Regions from separate parts of the Homo sapiens genome. Here region 2 is linked to region 1. A link means that fine-mapping ties the variant in region 1 to the expression of a gene that starts in the linked region. Tissue or cell type: testis. Region 1 holds a variant in brackets; the other region holds the start of a gene. All regions are shown on one strand. Distances are between the middles of the regions.

Region 1 (8,103 bases):
AACTAGCCCCAGATAGATCTGGGTTACCAGCTGCACACAGACTGTGACCTTGGTAGGAGACTACTCCCCTCACTCGACCTCGGCTTCCGTATTGATTAACTAAGGATGGGTATCAGAGCAAGTCAGGACCGTAATAAAAGGTAGGGTTTATGAGTACTTCATGTCAGGCAACAATCCCTTAATACAGTTAATGTTATTACCCTGGTTTACAGATAAGAAATCAGAGGCTTAGCGAGGTGGAGTCACTTACCCAAGGCTAGTGACTAGGAAATAGGCCAATGCGGATTCACCCGCAGGACTATCTGACTCCGGAATCCTGCTCCATAACAAAAAGCTGCCAACTTGAATAAGTGTTCATGACCTTTGACCTGGGCCGCAATCAATCCCCAGGACTTTATCCATAGGAATGAATCCAAGAAAGCCAAAAAGATGTTCCCTGCAGCCATATTTACAATATGGCGGATAATCAGAAGCAATCTGTCTGTCCAACCACAGGGCCCTATTCGCTTTACAATTAGGCAGCTTCAGAGATTGGGGTTTATTGAGCACTAGCTCTTTCTCAATACTCTGTCATAATCCCCACACCAACCCTGTGAAGTGGGTGTTGCTTTCCCCATTTCTAGACAAAACCTCTAAGTTCAGAGAGGGTGAGCGATTTGCGAGAGTACACAGATGGTGACAGACATGGGTCTGTTCACAGCCACCCAAAGGTAGAAATGGGGAGATCTGTTCTATGAGGAAGGAAGCTAAAACTCAAGAGAGGGTGAGGGGGCCTCTGCTCAAGGCCACACAGTTGGTGAGCAGGACAGTTCGGGTTTGACCTCAGGCACTGGGACCCTGCACTCTGGGACCACATCCTGCACTGCAACTTCCCACTGGGAACACCTGGATGAGTCACTTAGCTTCTCTAGGCCTTGGTTCCTCGTCTGTAAAATGAGGATAATAATGTTCATGGCATAGGGTGGCTGTAGCGAGGATTAAGTGAGTTTCTGGCCAACAGTAATGGCATCATGTAAGCAGAAGCACGTCCAGGCTTGGGGTGGAGAGTGGTTTTATGTGATGGTGTGGTTGGGGGTGAAAGAGAGGCTGGGGACAGGGTGGGTGTGAGAGAATTTAGGGGGACAGAAAGAGGCCATGAGAAGGGCTTGGCAGTCTCTGTGATGATTTTCAGAGGCCTTTTGGTTTTTTGTTTGTTTTTTGAGACGGAGTCTCGCTCTGTCCCCAAGCTGGAGTGCAGTGGCATGGATCTCGGCTGACTGCAACCTCCACCCACCAGGTTCAAGCGATTCTCCTGCCTCAGCCTCCTGAGTATCTGGGACTACAGGCCCAGCCACCACGCCCAGCTAATTGTTTGTATTTTAAGTAGAGATGGGGTTTCACCAGGTTGGCCAGGATGGTCTTGATCTCTTGACCTTGTGATCCACCCACCTCAGCCTCCCAAAGTGCTGGGATTACAGGTGTGAGCCACCACGCCAGGCCTTCAGAGGCCTTTTGTATGCTGCCCCTTTGACTGTGGCCAGGCCTTTTATCTGTGGACCAGGCCTTTTGCTAGGGTTACCCCTACCCAGAAGGCAGGCCTGCTACAGTGGTTCCAGCTCCAGCCCAGGCTGGCCTCACTGGAAGGGACAAGGCATGTTTGCTGACTAAAGGATTCGGCTCAATCTTTCCAAGACTTTCAGAGTTGGGAAGACAGTAAAGGTCACCTCGTCCACCCCATTCCTTTCCGCACAGGAGAGCAAGAGCTTATTCAGGGTCACACAGGGAATAATGTCAGAGCCAGAAATGGAATCCAGAGTCCTGTCACTCAGGCCTTTTTCCAATATGGCACTTAACCAGGAGGAGCCTTGCCTCTGGTCCAGCTTTACAACCAGCTGTGGGACCCAGATTCAGGGGCTTATGGCTCAGCTGATGATCTCACAAGGTTGGAGGAGCATTAAATTGGATAATAGATGGGAACTTGCTTGGAAAGAAAACCAGTGGAAATGTGGAGTGAGGCTGGGGCCTCCCTGAGGCACAGCACAGAAGGGTGGTGGCAGGGAACACACAGATGTGGCATGAAGGGGCTGCAGGGAGGCTGAGGCTGGGACAAGTCTCCACTGGGGTCCGAGTGGCCACCTGCCCTGCAGGGCAGGTGGCAGGGAACTGAGACCCGGCAGAGGGAGGGGAGGCCAGGTAACCCACTGGGCTCCTCCAGCAACGGTGAGACAGAGACACAGTGAGGCCAAGACTTTCGCAAGCTCACCGCTGCAGCCAGAGGCAGGAGAGCGGTTAGTAAACAGACAACAAAATCCCAGAGCCAAATACCCCCGGGCGTGTCCCAACCCAACTCTCTGACAGGCTCAGAGCTGGCCTTGCTTAGATTTTCTGCCCCTTTCCAAGGAAGTGGGCAGCCCATGCTTAGACTTGGAGACGCTGATGCCTCCCTCAGGCCAGTCCTTCTGCCTCTTCCCCCATGCAGACTCATCCACAGATTGCCTCTGGGTTTATTGCTTGCCTTCCTTCTTTGCTGGACTCCAGCATTGTCCCACCCGTCTTGTGTGGATCCTGCTATCGGTTTGCCGACCCTTCTTTCCAAACCTTCCTTATACTCCCATTCAGACCCTTCAACCTGGCATTCAGCATCTCCATGATGTAAAATGGGGAGTATGATCCCTCCTCAGGAGTCAAACCTCTTGGCACAGTGCAGATCACAGAGATGCCACTCGGTACACTTTAGCTATTATTATCACTATCAACACTATTATTACCTCATGCAGTCCCGTGCAGCAAACACACTTTCTGGAGCATCAAGCCACCAGCCATGTAACGAGGTTGCCAACTCACAAAACCCCATGAAAGTATTAGAAACACTCACCTCCAGCCCAACTGAAATATGGGACACTGCGGCCCAGGCTCCAGAGCCGGTTAATGGCAGAGCTAGACCAGAAGCCTGATCTCCTGCCTCCCGAGCCAGAACTCTTCCCTAACAAGCTGCCACTGCTAGGAGCCAAGTTCAAACACCAGCCTTTAC[G/A]TATGGTAGTCTCAGAGTACACAAAGAGCAAACCTTGGCTACATATAAGAATCTTTATTATTTGTTCTCACTGTTAACTTCCCCCTTTTAATACCCCTAGGTACCTTCAGAGGGGGCTTCTCTCTCCTCCTTCCAGCCAAGGCTTGTTTATCTCTCCACTGTTTTTTCTCCCCCTCACTTCCTTCCCCTCTCCATCACTGGGGAGGCCTTTCTCTGACCTTCCCTGGCAGAGCCAAAGGGCAATTGCCAGCTTGCCTTTTCACTACTCAGCTAAAAAGCCAAATTCCTTTCCTCCTGGGGCTCTACTGGATTTTTTGTTGTTGTTCTTAGCCTCAAGGGTCTATTCTGGGAAAGACACTGAACCTCTCTCTCCTGACTGGCTCCCTCTTCTTAAACATGCCCAGTTCCTCCCACCCTAAAAACCAACAAGCAAACAAATCAAGCCTGTCTATCCTCTTCAATTGAACTCGGTCCCATTCCTTTCCTCCTCCTTCAGCCCCAGTTCCTGGCAGTAACCTGTTATCTCCAAGTCCCATCTCCTAGGCTTCACCTCCCACGAGGCTGTCTCTGCCCCTCCCCACCCTCTACTCAACCTGCTCCTGCTCAAGGCCCCGGACCTCCATTTTGCTAAATCCAACCGGCGTTTTACAGTCGTCAACCTGCCTGGGCTTTCGGCCTCCTCACACCTGCAGACCACACCCTCCAAGGGCCTTCTGGATTCTCTGACTTGATATTCCCCCACTGCTCCGCCAGCAGCTTCTCGGTGTCCTTGGTGCCTCTTCTTCCAACAGTCATTGACGTTGTGTCCTGGGCCCTCTTCTCTTCCCATGTTCTCTCCCTAGCCTCCCCCATAGCTGACTTTCCATCTCTAGCTCATAATTCCTAGATCATCCCACACCCGCCTCCTGAGCCCCAGGCCTGGGCACCCAGCTGCCTGCACTCAGGTGTCTCTCAGGCACCTCAATCCAAGCTTGGCTAGAACTGTCTCATGATTCTTTCTCTCAAGACCACCCCCTCCCTCCCGACCCCCCCATCTCCGTAGATAGCCCCTCCATCCACCCCTTCTTCTTTCTCACCCGCCTCCCCAGCCAGTCACCAAGTCCTGCTGAATCCATCTTCCAAGCACCTGCACTGTGTGGGCCACCCACCTGCTTCTGACTCCCTCACTGTGACCTGAGCCGGGGCTCTCCAGCTGCTCCTGAGAGTCTGCAGCAGCTGCCTAACTGGTCCCTCAAAGCCATACTTCCCCCTCATTCCATTCTGCTTACAGCAGCCAGGGATCTTTCTACAACACAGATCTTTTGGTCATTTCCCTGCTTAAAACCCTTCACCATCTCCCAACTCTTCTCCAGTCAAACCCCCAAATCTTCAGCATCTCCCTCCCCCTAGCTCTCTGCCTTCCAGCCTCCCTGGCCTTTTTGCTTTTCTTTCAATGCCTCCATTCCTTGCTGCTTCTGAGGCTGTGCGCTTGCTGGTTCCTCTGCCTGGAATGCTTTTCCTTCCCCCTCTCCCCATCCCCAAGAGATGCAGCCTAGAGTTGCTTCTGCACTTCCTACCAGCTCACACTCCCCTGGGGCCCCTGAGTTTTCCATCAGCTGCCAGGTTGTTTGCAGTCAGCCATGGGTGCCTGAGGCTGCTTGATTCATGTCTGTCTCGGCTCCTGGACTGCAAATTCCATGAAGGCCAGGGGCCATGTCTGTCTTGCTTACTCTACAACCACACTGTGCCTGGCCCATAGCACCGCAGAGCCCCAGCTGACCAGGCTTCCCTGTCCATACAGCCTGTGCTGATGGCCCAGGAGCAGACTCTTAGTGTGGAATTTAAGGGCCTCATGATTGGACTCCACCCACTTTTCCAGCGCTCCTTGGCCCTAACCCTTTCCACATGCCTCCCCCTATCCAGACTGGGGACCTCCCCCTCCCCCCCTTTGCTCCCACCACTTCCCCTCCTCTCTCTTTCTTGGATGTTCTAGCCAGCCCAAGCCCATATCCTCCTCGACACCTCCGTTCCTGACCACACAGCCATCTTCCCCTGGGTCGACAGAGCACCCACCCACCATCCCTTCAAGCATCCTCCACTATCTCCAGGACGAAGTCACAAAGCACTTGGGGCCCTTCCTCATCCATCCCCACTTACTGTCTCAGCACCACACTACCCACACAATAAACACCCATCCCCTCTGGCAATGCCCCATTGCCAAACATGCTCCTTGCTTCATGCCTCCAGACACTCCCTGCCCAGATGGCTCTGGCCCTCATCCCTCCTTGATAAACTCCTCCTTGAGACCAGCCCGAACATTCTCTCTTCCAATTGCCGTCCTTGGCCCCTGGGCTGAGGTCTGCCCTCTCCAGAGTCCAGCACTCGAAGACTTAGCCTTCAAAGCCATGTTTCCTGGGTTCCTATCCTGCCTCCATCTCTTACAAGCTGCAGGGTCTTAGACAAGTTACAAACCCTCAGCTGCCTCATGCATAAAATGGGAGCAGTAATGGCCCCCACCTCATAGAATTTTATGAGGATTAAATAAGGAAATCCAACTGGGTGTAGGCTCATGCCTGTGGTCCCAGTTACTTGAGAGGCTAAGGCAGGAGGATCGCTTGAGCCCAGGAGTTTGACACCAGCCAGGGCAACATAGTGTAGACCCCATCTCCATTTTTAAGAACATTAAAAATTTAAAAATCCACAGTAAGTATTTAAGCAAGTGCTTGGGCACCTATTGCGTGCTACTGTGAAGCTTCTAAGCTTCTTTCCTCTCTTTGGCCCTGATTGGCTAACAAGCCTGTCCTCCATCTGGCCTGTGCTAAGAGGGGAGACTCAGCCCCTTCCATCTCTGGGTCTCCCTTGCCTAGCCCTGTCCTGGTTCTGAAAAAGCTCAATCAATGCTTATTAAAGAGCCAATAGACCACACACTTGGAGCAAATCATCCCTTTGTTCCTTCACTTTCACATGTATAAATCTTATCTCTCCTCACAGGATTTGAGCTCTAGGGTATGGGGGTTGGGGCTTCTGGGGAAGGAGAGCAGAAGGGGTGTCTTCATGTCAGAGCATTCAGACCTGGGAGGGAGCTCTGTGCTCCTGCATCCCTCTACCCCCCACAGTGCCCAGCCCAGAGAAGGAGTCAAGGAGGGCTTGTTGACAGATGGGCTCACGGTCTTCCCCCGAGAGGAGGCACGTCTCCCCCTTCGAGATATTGCCCTAATTACTCCCTGGGCTCTCCCCTCCACACGCACATCTGTGTTCTTAGGCAAGATCCTGCTTGACATACTCCACGGAGTTCTCTTGGCTGCCGGTTCGAAGCCAGCTTGGCCAGTTTCTTCAGAAACTAAAGCAGAAAGAGAAGAAAGTTTTCTTAAAGCCACAGAGCACGAAACCAGAACAGAGGATGAATTCATTGTCATCAGCAAAACATCAGCCTAGACTAGCACTGACTAATCTCCACACTGTCCAAAGGGGGCACGGATGGCATAGCAGAAGAGTTAAGTGTGCTGGACTCTACAGTTGGAGAACCTCCGATTTGAATCCAGGCTTTGCCACCAAGCAGCTGGGTGACCTTGGGCAACTTACTTATCCTTTCTTTTTTTCCTTCTTTTTTTTTTTTTTTTTGAGATGGAGTCTTGCTCTGTCACCCAAGCTGGAGTGCAGTGGCGCAGTCTCGGCTCACTGCAAGCTCCGCCTCCTGGGTTCATGCCATTCTCCTGCCTCAGCCTCCTCAGTAGCTGGGATTACAGGTGCCCGTCACCACGCCCGACTAATTTTTTGTATTTTTTAGTAGAGACGGTGTTTCACTGTGTTAGCCAGGATGGTCTCAATCTCCTGACCTCGTGATCCGCCCTCTCGGCCTCCCAAAGTGCTGTGATTACAGGTGTGAGCCACCGCACCTGGCCTACTTATCCTTTCTAAGCTGCAGTTTCCTTGTCAATAAATTGGGGATAATATTTGTACTAGCTCAGGAGGATTTAATTAGATGAGTGCTCCAAAGGTTGGTCATTGTTATTTTGCCACTGAATGTCAGAGCCAGAAGGAACTTCAACAGTCCTCTTGGAGAGAGGGCACTGTGGCCTGTGAAGGCAACCGGATCTGGATAAGCCATAGAGCAAATTGGTGCTTTCCCTCTACCCCTTGTCACCAATGACATTTTTCAGAGAACCAAGAGGTGTCTGCTCCTTCACCCCCGGACTCAGAGGTCACCCGCCTTGGTTGGAAAAGCTCAAATTTGGGGATCTTGAAGGGGGAAGGGCAGAGGCATCCATGCCAACATAGGGCCTGTTGTCAGGAGGCCATTTGTTCAGGATGAGCCCCCTCCAGCTCAGGGTGGCACTGCCCATCAGTGATGCCATGACAGGGCAGATCAGATCACAGCCTCCACTTGCAGTCCATCCAGGGAAGTGCTGCAAACACAACTCAGATCTTGCAGGGATGAGGACTTTGGAGCCAGGTAGGCAGGGCACTGCCTGCTCACCTTCTCTAGCTGGGCTCAGCTCTCTGGCCTCTGCTCAGCCTGGCCCAGGGGCTCCATCTGCCCACCTGTCTGCCAGATGGAGTGCCTGCTCTGCTGTTTCCCTTTTACCCACTCCAGATACATCTTGCCCACAGACTTTCCCTCTCCCAGATGCTCAGGCAGACCTGGTGGTGCCATCTAGAGGGGTCAGGGTGAGCACGATGGTTGGGGAGTAGGGGGGAAAGGCCTTTTAACTGAAGCTTGAGGAAGCATGGTTTGTTTGTTTGTTTTTGTTTGTTTGTTTGTTTGTTTGAGACAGAGTCTTGCTCTGTTGCCCAGGCTGGAGTGTGGTGGTACGATCTCTGTTCACTGCAACCTCTGCCTTGCCTGGGGAAGCATTAAAGAGCCTGTTTTATCCTCCCGCCAGGGAGGGAGTTACATCGAATCAAGAAAGTAGTTGTCAAGCAATCTTTAAGCAAGGGGCCTAAGATGGGTTTTCAGTGCTGAAGAGGAACCCAAACTCCATCCAGAAAAGCACCCATCATTCCTTAAGTAGCCACTCTTTTCCTGCCACAAATCATGCATCATTCCATTTAATCCTCACAACAGCTTCTTCTTCACAGGGTGGTTTGTGAGGATGAAAGAGGAAGATGCTTCT
Region 2 (8,103 bases), 470 kb before region 1:
GTTTGTCTTTGCTCTTGGAGTATCAGAGTACATCTGGAAGTGTGTATTCTTTCAGTAGTCCTGCTGCCTAGCACAGCATTTGATCTAAGGCCTAAAGACTTTCTTCAGGTTAAGGAAATGTTCTTCTGTTATTTCCTTGATTATTGATTTCTTCTTCATTAATGATGCCTCCATCTGGAACTCCTATTAGGCTAATATTGATTGGATATTCTGGATCTCTCTGTTATATCTTATATTTTATCTGATTTTTTAAATCTCTTTTGTGTGCATGTGGTGTGTGTGTGTGTGGTGTGTGTGTGTGCGCACTTTTTGGGGAAGAGCAGTGGCATTTCAAAAGGAGCTGATATCCTGCCCCTATTCAACCTTTGGCTTCTATTATATTTGGAACAAACCTCTCACTTTCCAAAGAAGCTGTGGACCTATTTCTGTGTCCAGCCATTCTGTGTGGAGAAACTGACCATGTTCCTGATGTCCCTTAATTTGCCTTTAAACTGCTGCCTATGATTCTCCTCCAATCCTGATTCTCTGAGTTTGGGATTTTCCAAGACTGTTTTCTGGAAACCTGTACAGTTACTTCTTAGGGGTCTGTATTAGTCGGTTCTCACACTGCTAATAAAGACATACCTGAGACCAGGCAATTTATAAAGAAAAAGAGGTTTAATGGACTCACAGTTCCACATGGCTGGAGAAGCCACACAATCATGGCAGAGGTGAAGGAGGAGCAGAGGCACATCTTACATGGTGGCAGGCAAGAGAGCGTGTGCAAGGGAACTACCCTTTATAAAACCATCAGATCTCATGAGACTTATTCACTATCACAAGAACAGCATGAGAAAAACCTGCCTCCATGATTCAATTACCTCCCACCAGGTCCTTCCCATGACATGTGGGGATTATGGGAACTACAATTCAAGATGAGATTTGGGTGGGGACACAGCCAAACCATATCAGGGTCTTTGCAGAATCATGAGTTTATCAGTACTAATTAGTTTTTCCTCCCATGTCCCATCTACTTTGTATCTTCCCATATTATTCAAAATGTCTGCTTTATTGATGGCATCTTTCCCTGGTTCCCAGCATTGCCAGTGAATTTACCATTCCCCAAACCAAAAGCCCCCGTATGGAAATAGTGGAGAGTTCTGACACATCATATGGATAGATGGACCAAATGACCTTCCAGACTCATGTAACTCTGGGAGGCTTTTTCTTTAAAGCAGCATAATTAAAGGGTTGAGAAAAACTTTTACTGAAAAGGACAGAGAGATAGAGTTTAGTTTACTCAGGAGAACAGAATAAGGTGAGACTTAAATGGTGAGTCACACTAAGCCTGCTGAAGATACAGCAGGAGGGACTAAGATTAAATTACAGCTGAAGTGATTCATGTTGGTCACTACAAAGATCATTTAACCCTTAAAAAGTTGTGTGGCATCATGATACATTGCAAAGCCAAGTTACAAAGCCTCATTTTCTGGAGCTGTTCTCTTTAAAGGTAAGAGGATGGACTCGAATCACCTTCTGAATTATCGGACAGCCCTGTGACATGATTATACCTTGGTGCCTGAGATGTTAGATGGGAAATAAACAGCAGCATCTAGTAAACTCTCCTGGGGTAAAAAACAAAACAAAAAAAAAAAAACCATCTTGTTTTCACCCAGTCTTACTGATTTTTTTTTAGTGTGAAGACAGAATGTTTTTGTCAAAAACAAGTTCTCCAAATTTATAAACCTGATTGGAGACATCTTTAGTTTCTTCTCAAACATGCTGGGAAAATAGGAATGTCACTGAGACTCCTTCACCATCCCCTCGCAGCCCCTATTCCCCGGGGGGCTGGGTAGATGGAGAAGCAGGGGGCAGGGGCTGGACCAGGGAGAGAGTGACAGGCTCTCTGTGGTAGGTCTGTGCCTTGTCACAGAGCCTCCTGGGCTCAGGTCTGTGGTGGCCGCGGGAGAGCCAGCTCCACGCTGTGTGGCTGGTGACATTTCCGGCTGCCAGGGCCCAGCCAATCAGTGATGGACCCAGCTTGCTTGGGCGATGACACATGAAATATGATAATTTTCTGCCAAAGGGCCCTGGAAGAGGGGAAGGAAGAGAGTGTGTGTGTGTCGCTGGGAGGGGTCCACACAGGAGCGCCTGTGATGAGGTGGGAGGGTGACAGTGCACTTGTTTTCACGGTTTGCCTGGCAGGACTAGGCAAGGGAGGGAATGGGCTGTGATGCTGGAGCGGCTGTAGGAGCGCCCCTGTAGCTCCCGAGGTGAGCCACTGCCGCTGCTCTTAGGCGGGAACCAGCGGAGGAGCAGACAGCGCCATGCTGGAGCTCTGGGGCTGGGGTGAAAAAGAAACTGTCAAAGACATTTGCCTTCTTAACACACGTGAGCAAGGTTAGGACTCTTGTTTCTTCTCAGCGCTACCTCTTTAAAAGCCAGAACAAAACTGCAGTAAACACCATCTGGGTGGCTGAAGTACTCGAAGAATAATTTTTTTCAAAAAAATTTAGGCTGGAGGTTGTCTCTCCCCCTACCCTGTTTTTCTACCTCCATACCTCCATGCTGACCCTTAAAAGAAAAGTGAAAAACAAAACAACAGAACTCAATAACAAAATCTTGAAGAAGGGCCTAAGTCTGAATCGTAAAGACTCTAACTAAGGTTCAGGTGGTAGTTCTGATTCCTGATTCTGGTTGAAAGAAAGTATGTCTTGGAATGCGATGTGGCTCTGGATTATGTTCGACTTTAGAAATAGTGCCAGAACTATTCTTTGATTTGTGGACATGGACCCTGAGACTGCAGAGCAAGGCAGGGCAGGGCAAGGAGTGCCCGTGTTGAGCTCTCAGGTGCAGAGACCCCACTCCCTTCAGGCACTGTTGAGGCTCCCCGGCCCCTGATCTGCAGCCAGAGGCTGGTGAGGTGTGACACGCTTGCTGACAAGAGTGCCCTGTCTCGTCTGACCCGTGAACATGGGTGTTCAGAAGTGAAGGATCATAGTGTTTACATAACGTGCCAATTAGTACTGAGAAGCTCATCAGTGCAATAAATATTTATGACTTGCATTTGCATTTTTTCTCTCCACGTATATATATATAATATGTGTGCATATATATGTGCATATATATGCACATATATTATACATATATGTTGTTTTTTAAAAAGCACCAATAAATGAAATCCTTATCACTGTGTGCAAGCCTACTGTGCCTTTAGGCATGGGACTGGCTTCCTGCGCTGGGAGTGACAGCTATTCCGAAGTGATAATTGGTGTACTGTGTCTTTAAAAGGTTAAACCCCCTTTCAAAAAAGGTCTGGACTCCTAGTGGAAAAGACAAGCGAGGCATGGGTTGGCTCTGGATTCAGAAAACAGCTGCTGATTAGATTCTGTGTCTGCAGGCTGAATTTATTCCGTGTTTTTCAGCAGCACGAATTCAAGAGGGATGCTTCTGTTTGGGTTTCTGATCGTGATTTATATTTATTCAGAGGAATAACAGAGGGTGGATCTGTTCCCGGCGCGAGCATGCTCACAACCAGCCGACTCTCCCATTATCCAGCTGCCTAGTTTGGTGCTTCAATGTACATGGCTATTCCGTGTGCATATGTGTGTATACAAACACGCATGCATGCCTGGATGGACATACGTATGCACAGGTTATTTTTTAAGGACAATTCTTTCAATAAGGTCTTTACCCCTTACTTGAAACAGGTGTTCATGAAAAAAATGCACAAAATCCTGCCTGGCCGGAATAATTCATGAAGAAGGGGCTGGATCCGTGGGTCAGAGAACACAGGACCAGTTTGCCATCCCAAGGCCGAAGGTAGGGGACTCTGGGTTTTTATTCGGCGGATGGATTCCTTGCGCTGTATTTTACCTTGTGATTGTGTTTTTGCCTGAGGCCGCACCGCGAAGCAGAATAGCGAGCTGCGATTCCATTTTGTGTATGCCTTTCTTAGGCAAGGTGTCCGGCTGCCGAGACGCAGGGGCCGGCCGGGTGGGCTGCGCGTGGCGGCCAGTGCCCCCGGTGGGCTGAGCGCGCTGCTCGGCCTGGTGCTGGGGAGCGGCGCGAGCCTCAAGTGACCCCCGCGCGTCAATCACAGGCGGCGGCGGCGGCGGCGGCGGCGGGGCTGTAACCCTATGCGCGCCGTGCGCTCCAGCGCTGCTTGCAGCAGGCTCTGCTGGGCTCTGCACCCGCGCACTGGCGGCCGGCTCCATAGGAGCCTCGGCTGGGGGGCTTAGGCATCGCGTTCCGTGGCACCGGCGTTTTCTTGTGCTGCCTTGGCTGCTGCTCCGGATTGTTTAGGCGGACTGCAGTAGCCTGCTTGGTTGAGAGTGAGATTCGTATGATGCTGGCTGCTGAGACAGAGGGGATAGCTTTCTTTTTCCCCCTTAATCCTAGCCCCCTGAAAATATTCCTAAAGCAAAATCATTTCCCAACCCCCAACCTGACCCAACCAAACCCAAACCAAACTCCTATTCTATAGGGGATTCTTGCCTCCCTGCTAGCAGAGAGAGTGTCCCCTCCAAGTTATGCCCCACATTTTACTATCTTTTAAATGGAAACACTGATGGTGCCGAATGGTCCCTAATGATATTGTCCAGGCTGCTGAGGACTCCTGAGTGTGGCAGTGGTGCAGAGGAACTTGGAGGCTCGGCATTGGTTTCCTTTAACGTAGCTGGTTTGGTTTCTGTTGCAGGTCAGGAATATTTCTGTGGCTAGGCCCTTCCTTGAACTTCGGGGGCAGTGGTTGCAGGAAGAGGGTCTGCAGATCTGGTCGCTGGGTGAGCAGCACCCTGGCCCTCTTTCTGGTATACGCTGACGTTTCTGGTAGCCCTTGGCATTGTAACCACAGCAGCCAGGTGCCCACTGGCTACCTGGAGTGCTTCGGTTTTGTTAACTCTGGTGTGCATTTTGGGTGTTACGGGGGGAGGGAAGAGGAAAGAGGGAGAATGAGGTGTTTGCTGAACTGATCTGCATGGCAGTGTTCTCCAGCCCATGTTTGTGTGATTATGTAATGATCAGACGTGTGCCCAAACAGCTCCCCACCATCTCCTGGCTCTCCCCCAGACTGAAGAAGTTGGGTGCTACAGTTGTTTAAGACGTCTTTATGTAATTATGTGTATGCTGGGGGCAGGGAGAGAGTGGGGGCAAGGAGGAATAATTCTAGCAACTTAAATGTGAAGAATACAGGTCAGTGATCGTGTGTCCCTCTGAGGACAGTGTGGTATTAGCTCTGGGTCAGTGTTGATCTGAAGACCCTCCTGTGTCTCTTTCAGCCAGTAATTGCTTATCTGAACTTTCATTTGGTAATTTCACCCCTCTTGCACCCTGGAGACAGTTGGACCCAGGAGAAGGACCCCTGCAGGGCCTCCAGTTTCCCAATTCCAGGCAGAAAATGAATCCTGAAGCCAAGGTAATAGGCCAGGTCCCAGCTGTTCTTCATGGTCCTGCTGAGCAGCCAGTGTAGGGAGGAGTTCCTGTCCACTAGGGTGTCACTTGTGCTCTGGGGTTGGGCTATACTGTGGGGCTGAAGAATAGACCTCAGATGCCGTCTGAGCTGTTTGACATATGCTCTTTAAAGTTGTGATGGCTTGCAGAGGCTGGAGGCCCTTTACATAGTTGCATTTAAAGATTGTGGGAGTTTTTTGCAAGGAAGGTGGACAGCTGTCCAACTAAGACACCTGCAGGCAGGAGGAGAGGGTGGTGTGACACTTAGCTCTCTGCTTCCTCTCCACTCCATCTAGTTAAGGCACCCACAGGATACAGAATTGTTAACAGGGGCCCTCCTGTCACACCCCTGAGCGCCTCAGCCTGGGGCTGTTGGGCAGATTTGTTAATTTGATGGCAAAGTCTGGCCCCTTAAGGCTAAGATTGTTTTTTTGCCCTCAACACCCCAGTGGGTTTGCTTTGAGGGCCAACTACTACTGTGAACTCTGTGGCAGTGGATCAAGATGTGCTCAACTGGCACTATTGTTGAGCTGTCTCCGCCCATTGTGTTTAGTGGCAGCCACCCTCCTTGGAGTGGAGAAGTGTGTGCTGCCTTTGGGTCCTTGCCAAGTGAGCTGTTGAGACATTTAGTGTGTGAAAGGTACAGGCAAGAAGAAGATGCATTTAGTCTGAAGTCCTGGCAGGTTCTAGGACATGATTTGATGAAAGATAACATTAAGAAAGCTGTGTGACAACTGGATAGCATTTAACTTGTCTCTCACTCCCTACTCTGTGAATTCCCTAATGTCTTTAAGGCTCTTTTTTGCCCTCCATCCTGCCCATCAAGGAGTCCCTGACATGCTGTTCTCCATCCTGTTTCCTGTGGAGTCAAAGTGTATTTACAAATCTGCAGATGCACTAGGCGGGCAGGGCTGGAAAACACTGGCTGTATCAACAGGCAGCACTAGCATTCTGGGTCAGACTTGGCCAAAGCCCGTGACCAATTTTCTTCCTTATCTGTAAAGTAGGTGTAACCATCATAACCTTACCAAGACCACTGAACTATCTTGAGAAGAAAAATGAGATACGTTTAGTAACATGCTATGTAGTTGATAGGTATTAGGATAATACCACAACAATCTGGAACTCACATTTACATAATTTCACTTATCCAGTTGGGACCTAGATGGCAAATCAAGAGAAAGGTCATAAGTCCATGAGCTACAGTTTATGAATTTTGATCATTGGAGGAAATTTTATACCCTCTTTCAGGCCTCTGCATTTACTTCAAGTTTTAAGAGGCTTGGTTATTAGTTTGTCAAATGCACCTAGCAAATTGGAAGCAACTGATACTGTACTGTGCAAGGATTATTAAAGCTCTTTTATCAAGTATCAGTAAGAAGTAAGAGTAAAAAACAGAAAAACTAAAAAAAAATTTAAAAGGCACAAGAATTCAAGGCATGGAATTCTAAAGCTGATATGAGCATTTAATGTAAGCAATTCAGTGAAATTTTATGTATTTTGATGGATCTTTGGTACTCTGTTTTATAACATAGTAACTGATGCTCACAATGACCCACATGTATCCATAGAAGTTAAAATTATATTTTGTTCATCCAATTTAAAAAGACAGAGTTCTGAAGTATCCCCAAAAGATTTTTTTTTTTTGCATGATTCTTAGAGAAAAAACTGCAACTATCCATGATAATGGCACCTGTGAGGTTTCTGGATAGCCGGTGGCTTACTGGTCAAAATTATATTACAACTATAAAGCCCTGCTGTTGAAATTGAGAACTTTATGATCTTTTGTCAAAATTTATCAGGGAACTACTATGCTACTGTTATTATTAGTGGTTATGTTCTAACATTTAATACTAAAGAAAATATTCATGAACCTCAACCTGTCTTGTTATGATCAGGAAACACACTTAGAGTTGTTCCAACTTGATGACTTTAATTCTGGAGTTGGAAGAGACCTGGTGATGGAAAAGATGGAGCAGGAGAGGTAGACCCTACTGCTATCTGTTTCTTACATCTGTGTAGCAAATGTAGACTTACCACTACCCGGATGTTGTTCAAGCTGTCATGGCCACACCCTTATGGTAAGCAATGGTGTTTTTTCAGTTCAGACATCGTGCTGAAAACTGGAAGGTGGCTGAGATACACGAGCAGTGCCAAACTTGGCCTGACCCTCTGACAATGTGTTCAGTTAAAATTTGCTCCAAAACAAAGGCAAGAGGAAAAACAAAAGTAGAGGAAAATAAATGTAGACCCTTTTAAAATAGTATTTTAAAAATTCAATACATATGTGGAAAACGTGAGGACCTAACTAAAAGTCATGGAAGAGTATTTCTCAGTTTCTAGATGTACATACATTCATTGTTTTGGTAACTTACTTGAAAAAATTCTTTAACTAAAAGAAACTGTCAGTAACAGGTTATTGAATATAATCACAAATACTCAGAACTCTCCAAAGGTTCCCTGTATCTAATTGTAATATGATGGAGAAAAGGTATTCCCTGAAGTCCCAGAGGGCTTGGAAGGCAGAGGAGGTGAGGCATGGTGGTGGGAAGTGACTGAACCACACTATCCAGAGGACTGCCCTGTTGGGAGGTTTCACAGTTGGAAATATGTGCTTGGGAGGCAGGACAACAATGGAAGTGGTGAGTACATGACTGATGGGTCTCCCCTCCT

Which allele goes with the higher level. Positions count from the first base shown, and alleles are read on the strand shown. Sizes are in standard deviations (SD) of each study's normalised expression.
As copies of G replace A in region 1, the expression in testis of the gene that starts at base 3,292 in region 2 goes down (moderate effect, 0.59 SD a copy in GTEx).

The links. PIP is the estimated chance that this variant, and not a neighbour inherited with it, causes the effect.
Region 2: HIVEP3 starts here. The variant in region 1 is fine-mapped to the expression of HIVEP3 in testis (GTEx, PIP 0.99).

Annotation. Positions count from the first base shown.
Region 1 is chr1:41,445,119-41,453,221 of GRCh38, reverse strand. The region is part of intron 2 of LOC105378678 (a long non-coding RNA gene); the gene reads right to left. Among named protein-coding and RNA genes, the nearest start is that of EDN2, 36 kb to the left of the region's middle. RefSeq lists an enhancer at 1,589-2,148. The variant G/A (reference allele first, on the strand shown) is at 3,011.
Region 2 is chr1:41,914,111-41,922,213 of GRCh38, reverse strand. HIVEP3 (HIVEP zinc finger 3) reads left to right here and starts at 3,292. Exons shown (of 9, transcript NM_024503.5): 1 at 3,292-3,801. RefSeq lists silencers at 3,961-4,010, 4,062-4,356.